Linked DNA regions of Homo sapiens: region 2 is linked to region 1. Evidence: fine-mapped expression QTL. Tissue or cell type: monocytes. Region 1 holds a variant in brackets; the other region holds the start of a gene. All regions are shown on one strand. Distances are between the middles of the regions.

What was found.
Region 2: RHOU starts here. The variant in region 1 is fine-mapped to the expression of RHOU in monocytes (Quach 2016, PIP 0.95).

What each region holds. Positions count from the first base shown.
Region 1 is chr1:228,696,811-228,701,207 of GRCh38, forward strand. It overlaps a transcript of RHOU not described here. Among named protein-coding and RNA genes, the nearest start is that of RHOU, 36 kb to the right of the region's middle. The variant G/T (reference allele first, on the strand shown) is at 2,286.
Region 2 is chr1:228,733,583-228,737,979 of GRCh38, forward strand. It overlaps RHOU (ras homolog family member U), which reads left to right and starts at 1,897. Exons shown (of 3, transcript NM_021205.6): 1 at 1,897-2,422; 2 at 4,091-4,149. The coding sequence starts at 2,161.

The sequences.
Region 1 (4,397 bases):
TGCTGGGATTACAGGAATGAGCCACCATGCCTGGTCATGGGTATATCTTTGATCATTCCCACAGTATGCCAAAAGCAATGACTGACATTATTGATGAGATTAATAAGTAAAGAAAGTTGGCATATAAGAAATAATAAACCTTAAGACATGAGAGAGTAAAAGTCCCCCTGAAGTTTGAATTCCGAGGTCTACATATTCCTGGTGTCAGTGCTCCCACCAGATCTGACTAGATGGTTTGATGATCCTAGTTGGCTCAGGATCACATTGCCAGGCCACCAGTATTACTGAAAACACAGGACAGTTAGATGTAATAAAAACAAATGTTTTGACAGCCTTCTGCATGCTGAATATGCTATGTTCTTGTCTTTCAAGAGACATGGCAACTGCTTGAAACACAGAGATGTGTCAAAACTTTCATATTTACTTTAGGATTCAGAGCTCCCCCAGGAATGGCAAGTTGCATATCCTGTAATGAAATTTTATCTTGTGTAAGGCACAAACGCCCTGAATATTCATTCCTTTTGTTTTCTTTTCTGCAAAGAGACAAGCACAGAGACCCAGAGGAAAGCTTGGCCTGGAGCCAGCACAGGAGTCAGATGTGATGTGTGGTTTGGATTTTTAGAGAGCGTTTCCAGCATCTGCTTGCTTGGTTGACCAATAGTGTTGGGCAACAATCAGTAAGGCCGAGTTGCCAGGACTTCTCTAGGGCAGTGCAGAGGAAGGAATTTAAGGGACGGAGAGATTAAAATGCTGAAATAGGTTTATCGTGCTGACTGGCAGCCTCCTTGTCCCCAAATCCAGAGGGCATCCCCTTCTCTAAGATGCTGAGAAATGCACCGATGAGGGAAGACCCACAACCTTGAAGAGCTCTGTAGTCACTGTTCTCAGGCCTGGTATTGGTGGAAGATGTTGCCATTGAAATGTGCTCCCTGATTTTAGAGGACAATGAAATCCCAGGGACAGTAAAACCACCAAAGGCCAGGTGGGCAAATGATTTTCATGGGTAGTTAGAACTAAGCAGTAATCTGAGTGTTTTGTACCACAAGATTTTTGGGGTGACTAGTTTGTCACTGTATCCTTAGGAATGAAATAGGTGGGCAGCCTAGCTTGATCTACTTAATAGCAATCATTTAAGTTTTGTTCCAGTTATCTATCATTTCAAAACTTAGGAGGTTGAAACAATGATTAATTGTAATTTCAGACATTCTGTGGGTGGTTTGTTTTCTTTTTTATTTGGTAGAACATGCATAACATAAACTGACTATTGTAATATTTTGACGTCTACAGTTTTACAGATCATGCATTTCTTTGAGGTTTTTGTCATTCTAGTCAAAGGGAGACCATTTGACATTTTATGAATGGTTGTATGAAAACATTTAAAACTTTTGAGAGAATACAGTGTACCAGAGAGACTACTATTATGACTATTAGGAAGATAATACCAAGAGTTTGAAGTATGTTCCTTAGCCAAGATCCCCATAAACAAAACCAACTAAAATTAAATGATCAAAGAATGAGCTAAATACAAAGTCTACTTGTTTTAACCAAGCAGTCTGTTTGTTAATACCTTAGAACTATGTCTCTATAATACCTGATGTATTTATCTATGTGTAACCAGAAGTGTCAGTAACTGTGCAGATACTTTTCTGTTTAGCCAGCAAGTAATCTAGAGCAATTCTATTATTTACCACCATTTTAGTATGAGAATTTAAAGAAGTCTGTTGTGTAACCACAGTCTTTGCAGAAGAATCTATTATACAGCCTTGTAGAAATTTATGAGGGATACATTTTTAACTTTTGTCTCATTTACTCTAAACCATGGAAGAAAAGACCTAACAAATCATGCCCATCCAGAAGAGTGAAGGCCTCCTGGCAATGTTCTTATAGACAAAGGTTAAGAGGAGTGGACCAATGTTTTGTTTTTGTCTGATCATGAAGTAATGAAAGTACCATTAAATTTTTTCCCCCACATCGGCCCTTTGTCTTTCCTTTATTAAGGCATAAAGTTGTCCATGTATAAAGTTGACTGTAAAATCTTTCACAAATAAAAGTATACCACATGAGTGTATACAAGACCCCTTTTCTTGTTTTATTGTTTATAGAGGCATATGTAAGGAAAAAATTAAGAGATAAGAGTGTCTTGATAGTAGAAAAGTTTTGTTGTAGTGTGGGTGGCAAGAGTAGTCTTTCTCTGATTTTGTTTTCCAAAAGACCCAATCTCAGGGTTGTAAATCATGAAGAGTTTGGTTATCCTCAGTCGGTGGGCTATGAAAAGTTTTTTTTTT[G/T]TTTTTTTTAACCTGGTGAAAATATACTCTGGCATAATGTATTAAAGCCTTACCGGGCTGGGTAGGGTGGCTCACACCTGTAACCTCAGCACTTTGGGAAGCTGAGGCAGGAGGCTGAGGTGGGAGGATTGCTTGAGGCCAGGAGTTCAAGACCAATCTGGGCAACAAGAGTGAGACCCAATTTCTACAAAAAATAAAAAAAATTAGTCAGGGGTGGTGGTGTGTGCCTGTGGTCTCAGCTTCTTGGGAGGCTGAGGTGGGAGGATCACTCAAGCCCAGGAGGTTGAGACTGCAGTGAGACATGATTCCACCACTGCATTCCAGCCTGGGTGACCGAGAGAGAACCTGTCTCAAAAAAAAAAAAAAAAAAAAAAAAAAAAGCCTGTAGCATTTAGTCATATAGAGTTTAGGAGCAGAAGATACATGAGTTTCTGTTATTAGAAGCATAGGCCTTCAAGTGATTATTTCATAAGAGGCCAAGTTATATTTTCCATGAGAAGAGGATCTGATTGTCATTAATCTGTAAAACCTTTGATCAAGGCAATCCGGTCAATTAAGTTAGCTTTGGCTAATGCAATTGTATCTGTAGTGACTTATTTAACTGTTTTATAACGTGTCTAGTGAAACAAGTACCTTTATTGGTGGAGATTTTTCTAGGAATGTCCCATAAAGAAAAAATATGTCCTAATAACCTTTTAGTTACTATTATAGCATCAGTTTTCTTGCATGGGAAAGCTTTCATACTACCAGAAAACAGGCATTGAAAATGACAGTTGAATGAAATCTCTCTATAAATCTTTAGTTGGCCTATCAGATAGCAGAATATACCTAAAGTTTTTATTATCTTTCTAGAATTATAGGTTTAACAAACCAAACATTGATATTAAGACCGTTTTAGTAATCTACAACAGTCACTAAAATTATGTATATAATTTGGATAGTTTTATCTTTTTTTATAATGAGTCATGGATATAGAGCTTTATATAATGGAAGTTTTAAGGACTCAGGAAGAACCAGGTAGCCATCCAGGTTCTCCATGAGTCTACGCTTAACATTTGATTTATATCCTCTTAACTACGAATTTTGTTTCTCTAATTTAGGTGCAAAGCACTGTTTATTAGATAAGTTATCATAAGTAATTTGACTTGAACAATGGAGTTCATTTAAACTGCATATCTAAACAATTTTAGTACTGGCTGATGTAGCATGAAAATCTGGCAAAGTATTTTCTTGGTATTCAATTAATTTTTGTCTTGCTTGTGTTAGCAGTTTCATAAACCAGTCAACCCCTTTGTTAGAGTTCTGGGAATTTCTTACCCAGTCTAAATGATACGATTCTAGTCATGACAACTCTGTATTTAAGAATTTTTGTCAGAGTCCTTTTTATCTTTTTCATGAACTTCCTTGAAGGCACAGTACTTTAGGAGTTTATTTGCTTGTAAAGAGCTTTTAGAAACTCTATCAGAATTAAGCCATTAACTGTGAACATGATTAAGGTTGCAATTGACAAGAAAATTTAGTTATTTCTAAGGACATAATAACCATAATTATGACTGATAAAATATACCAAGACATGTCAGAATTTTAGGACTATTATACAATTTTCAAACATATATTAAAATAATATATTCATAAAAATATAACTCAAAGAAAGTTAACTGCAGATCATTTCTTATTTGACAATGCTTTTCATATAATCTAACATATTAGGCTTGGCATGGTGGCTTATGCCTGTAATCCTAGCACTTTGGGAGACCGAGGCCGGTGGATTGCTTGAGCCCAGGAGTTCAAGATCAGCCTGGGCAACAGAGCAGGACCCCATCTTTACAAAAAACACAAAAAAATTAGCTAGGTAGGGTGGTGTGCACCTGTAATCCCAGCTACCTGGGAGGCTGAGGTAGGAGGATTGCATGAGTCTGGGAAGTTGAGGCTGCAGTGAGCTGTGACTGTGCCACTGCACTCTAGCCTGGGCAACAGAGTGAGAGCCTGTTTCGAAAAAAATTAAAATATATTAAGTAGGCATGTTTATTTGTCTTTTGGATGCTGTATGGGCCCTCTGTAGCATCCCAAATTTAGTTTGAGGTTTAAAGAGAGTTAATTTTGAATTTTAAA
Region 2 (4,397 bases), 37 kb after region 1:
AGGCGTGAGCCACCGCACCAGCCGATATTAGGTGCTTTATGATGGAAAGAATTGCCAGACTAGCTTCCAGCTCTGCCCATCTCAAGCTCTGCTACTCTTGCTACTGGAACCCTTCTAGTGTTGGGGAAAGTAAGACAGTTAAGGGCACCAATGTGACTCTCACAGAGGGTCATAGGTATGTCAGTGGTAGCCATTCCTATACCTGGATGGCTAGCAACAACATATCTACATAGGAGAACTGTAAACCACATAAATATATCCTGTCATCACAGCCAGGGCGAGGGAGAGGCAAGTCAGGTACCTGAGGCTCAAAACTTAACATTGGCACTTGCCTGACCCTGAGAGTAAGGGCCCTCTAAATTTGTTGTTTTTTGATATTGCCTCTGAATGCTCAATTTGTCATAAATTTTGCATCCTTGACATCCCCCTTATCTCACCTTCATCCTGATTCTGTATCCCATTACACCCAAACAACCTGTTTGGGTCTCCCCAACTTCACTTTCTTTGGCTGATCCCCAAAATCTTCATGGCCTCTTCAAAGTCACTCAATATGAGGGTAAGTTACAGTTTAAAAAGACAGTGAACATAACTGGTGGTGATTAAAATACTTTTTTTTTTTTCAAAATTTACAGAAACATATTACCACGTGTACACATTGCTAGGTCTTCCAATGTGAAAGTGTCCTTTGCAAGTCAGGGGTCCTGGATTCAAGCTTCTAACTTCTTGATAAATCCATCTCTGCATTCTGACCATGGCCATACGTTCAAGATTACGTTTATCATACTGACTTATTTTTGCCTCCAGGATTTTGGTTAGAAGCTCAGGCTCTGGGGCTAGACTATTTGGGTTTGGATCCTGGCATTGCCACTTACTAGCTTGTGGAATCCCAAAACGTTACTTAATATCTCTGTGCCTCAGGTGTTCTCATCTGTAAGTAATGTTAAGATTAAAAGAATTAGTTCTTGAAGAGTGCTTACAACAGTATCTGACACATTATGAAAGTTCAGTATTTGTTATTGTTATTTTTACTACCACTAGTATCAATGTGTATTAATAATATGTGGCCCTTCTCACACCACGCTGTACACCCCCAGGACTCTTGGTATTCTGACTTGGCTAAGAGGCGTCCTTTTTCTGAATAGACTGTTGACCACATGTAGAAGGAAGGCAGAGAGAGAAATGAATCAAAGGGAAACGGAATATTTTTTCAGACATATTAATGTCTCCGAATTACCTTTAAGTAAATGAAGGAATTGGGGGTATAAAAAAATTTCTGGAGCATACATGTATAAAGGTTCACGGCATGCCGAAAGACAAAGTCAAAGGAGCATTCACAATGGAGCTGGCATCCTTTTGCTTCAAAATGAGAAAAAATCACACGATCAGCTGCAGTTAGACTTAAGGAAAAAAGCTGTCTGTTAATTCAATCTCATTCGCAGGACAGGCCTCCAGGACACTTCATTTTTCCCCCTGGGTGGAGCCGTGGCCAGCCGGGGGCTCCACGGAGTGAATAGGAGGCGGCTCAGGCTTCCTGGCTCGCGTGGGCGCCAGAAAGCGGAACCTCCCGGGCCAGTCGCGCGGTGGTCACCCTCTTGGGAGCTGGGGAGGAGGCTGCGGAGGCTGGCCCGGCTCCTTCGGGCGTCGCTTCCCGGACCGGGTGCGCGGGGTCCCCCGGAACGTGTGTTCCAGGTCCTCCCGCGCCAGTGTTCGCAGTCCCCGCCTGGTCGCGGCGGCGCCTCGGGCGCGGGTGCAGGCGCGCGGCGCGCAGGCGGGGGGCGCTGTGGTCTTGGCGCGGGGACCGAGCCGCTCGGCCAGACCCGCCTCTTTTCCCTCCCCGCCAGCCCGCCCGCCTGCCCGCCCCCCACGCGTCGTGTCGCCGGGAAGCCGGGCGGAGACAGAGCGCTTGGGATCCACGGCGCTCGGACCGCTGTCCTCCAACAGCGCAGGGCAGAGCGGCTGGCGCCGCCGGAGCGCGGAGCCACGACCCTCCCTGGCCGCCTTTGTCTACTGGCCGTGCGGCCCGGAACCGCCACTCTCCAGGGCCGGGGACGCGCCCGCAGCTGTCGGTGACAGCTCCTCCCTACCGCAACCCTCCGGGGCGGAGGGGCGGTCGGGCCGGGCCCTGCTAGCCCGCGACCGCAAGCCCGCGCTCGCGGATCGATGCCCCCGCAGCAGGGGGACCCCGCGTTCCCCGACCGCTGCGAGGCGCCTCCGGTGCCGCCGCGTCGGGAGCGCGGTGGACGCGGGGGACGCGGGCCTGGGGAGCCGGGGGGCCGGGGGCGTGCGGGGGGTGCCGAGGGGCGCGGCGTCAAGTGCGTGCTGGTCGGCGACGGCGCGGTGGGCAAGACGAGCCTGGTGGTGAGCTACACCACCAACGGCTACCCCACCGAGTACATCCCTACTGCCTTCGACAACTTCTCCGGTGAGCTGGCCGGGGGGCCGGGGCCGGGGGCGCGTGGCCGCGGTCCACCCAGGGGAAGGAAGGTGGCGCGAGGGTCGCGAGGTTCCCAAGGGGGCTGCAGGGCCCCGGGCGCGGCTCCAGCTGGGAAGCCGGACAAATGAGGAGTGCAGGACGTTTCCTGAGTCTCAGGGACCGGGCAAGCGCGGAGCTAACACGAAAGGACCACGGCGGAGTGGGCTTGGAGAGAGGAGGGCGGAGCGGCAGTCAGAGCCTTGCCAAAAAAAAAAAAAAAAAAAATCTCACAATTTAAGCAACAGATAAGTAGGAGTGAAACAGGTTGAGTTCAGGGTGCCCGGTCAGTTTGTTGCATAGAGCAAAGTTTCCTGAGGGCGACGTCGCTGGCGCCGCTGCAGAGTTTCAATCAGAAGGTGACGCGCAGGTGCCTTTACCTGAGCGTCGCTCCTTTGCTTTTAGGCGGCTCAGCTCACAAGGGGCGTCTCCGCTTTAAAGAGCCGCGGAGACGCCGGGAAAACACTTGATTTAGTGAAAAAGCGCGAGCGGCCCTCGTGAAGGCTTAGGTTTGGATGAAACCTGAAGAGTAAACACCATTTCTTTCTTCTGAGCCCCACCACCTTCCCTGCCCACATGGGCTCGGATTCTGATTGTTGGTATCTTTTCAGGATCCCTTTAAGCTACTTAAAGCTCCTATGTACCGGGTGCGATGCCATTTCCCTTGGTAGATACAAAGAGAAAGGAATTCTCTATCTTGCTATTCAGGTCTTTTTGAAATTTAAGAAAAAGTTAAAATTCACAGAAACTAGTATGAAACACTTAACTGTCTTGCTTCTTTAAAAAAAAATTGCTTCTCTGACCTTCCTTTCATCCCAAAGGTACCTTAGAGAAATGGGTGCTGTACTGGTGGGTTCCCACCGCAGGGTATTGTTTCTTCCCCTCCCCCCACCCCACCCCTGCAGCTGACTAGTATAAATATTTAGAAACAATTAGAAAGTTGTGTAGAAAGAGACAAAACTGACTGCTTAATTAAAATAGAAACCTCCACAACATGTCCTGCTGCAGGCCTCTCCACACTCCCCGAGTCCCCGGATCCCAGTGGAAAGGGGGCCATGGCTTTCTTTTTTCTTTTTTAATCCTCCTTTTGACCTGACATAGAGATAAGGAGTGCCCTCATTTCTTAAACAGGACAATGCGGGCAGCCTGTGTTTGCACATGTTCTCAAAACACACTAGAATTGTATGATAAACCCTGAAGTTGGGGAACCTTTCCCAAGGGAAAACAGAATTATTTGTGAGGTTTTCCACTGATTTAAAACTGCAGGGTTGCTTCCCATTTACCCCCAGTGTTGTTTTTAGGTCCTTTGAAACAAGTGTGACAGGAAAATAAATCTTCCAGGACTGGGAGAAAAGCATAGGCCTTTTTAGGGTCACCATCAAAGCGTTCAGGGATTTGCTGCCTGGTTCACGGTAATGGAGTGACTTGCCAGCCGTGGGTTTGTATACAAAAATGCCTCCACAGGGCCTCCTTGTTTTTGGCTAGTCTTTAATTCATTAGAGGACCTAAAATAGGAGCAAAGGGGTTTGGAGTGAGAATGATAGTGAAAGCTAAAACTATTAGTATTCCGAAAGGGGTTAAAAGACACCTCCTGATTGTCATTTTGGTTTTGTTTTTAAGCGGTGGTGTCTGTGGATGGGCGGCCCGTGAGACTCCAACTCTGTGACACTGCCGGACAGGTCAGTATCACGTTACAGCTCAGTGCTGGGAAAGGAAACAGCCTTTTAAAGATTTCCAAATAACCTTTGATTCCCTCAGTCAGTAACTGGGTCATTCTAAAGCCTCATGAAGTGGACCCACCCCTGCTGTTGGCCCTTCTCTGAGGGTGGGCAGGGGCCAGGTTATTGGCCGGCAGGAAGCAGAGGAAGATACCTCCAAACTAATAAAGCAGGGTTTGGCCCAGCTCTGCGTAACCAGGCAAGGGAGG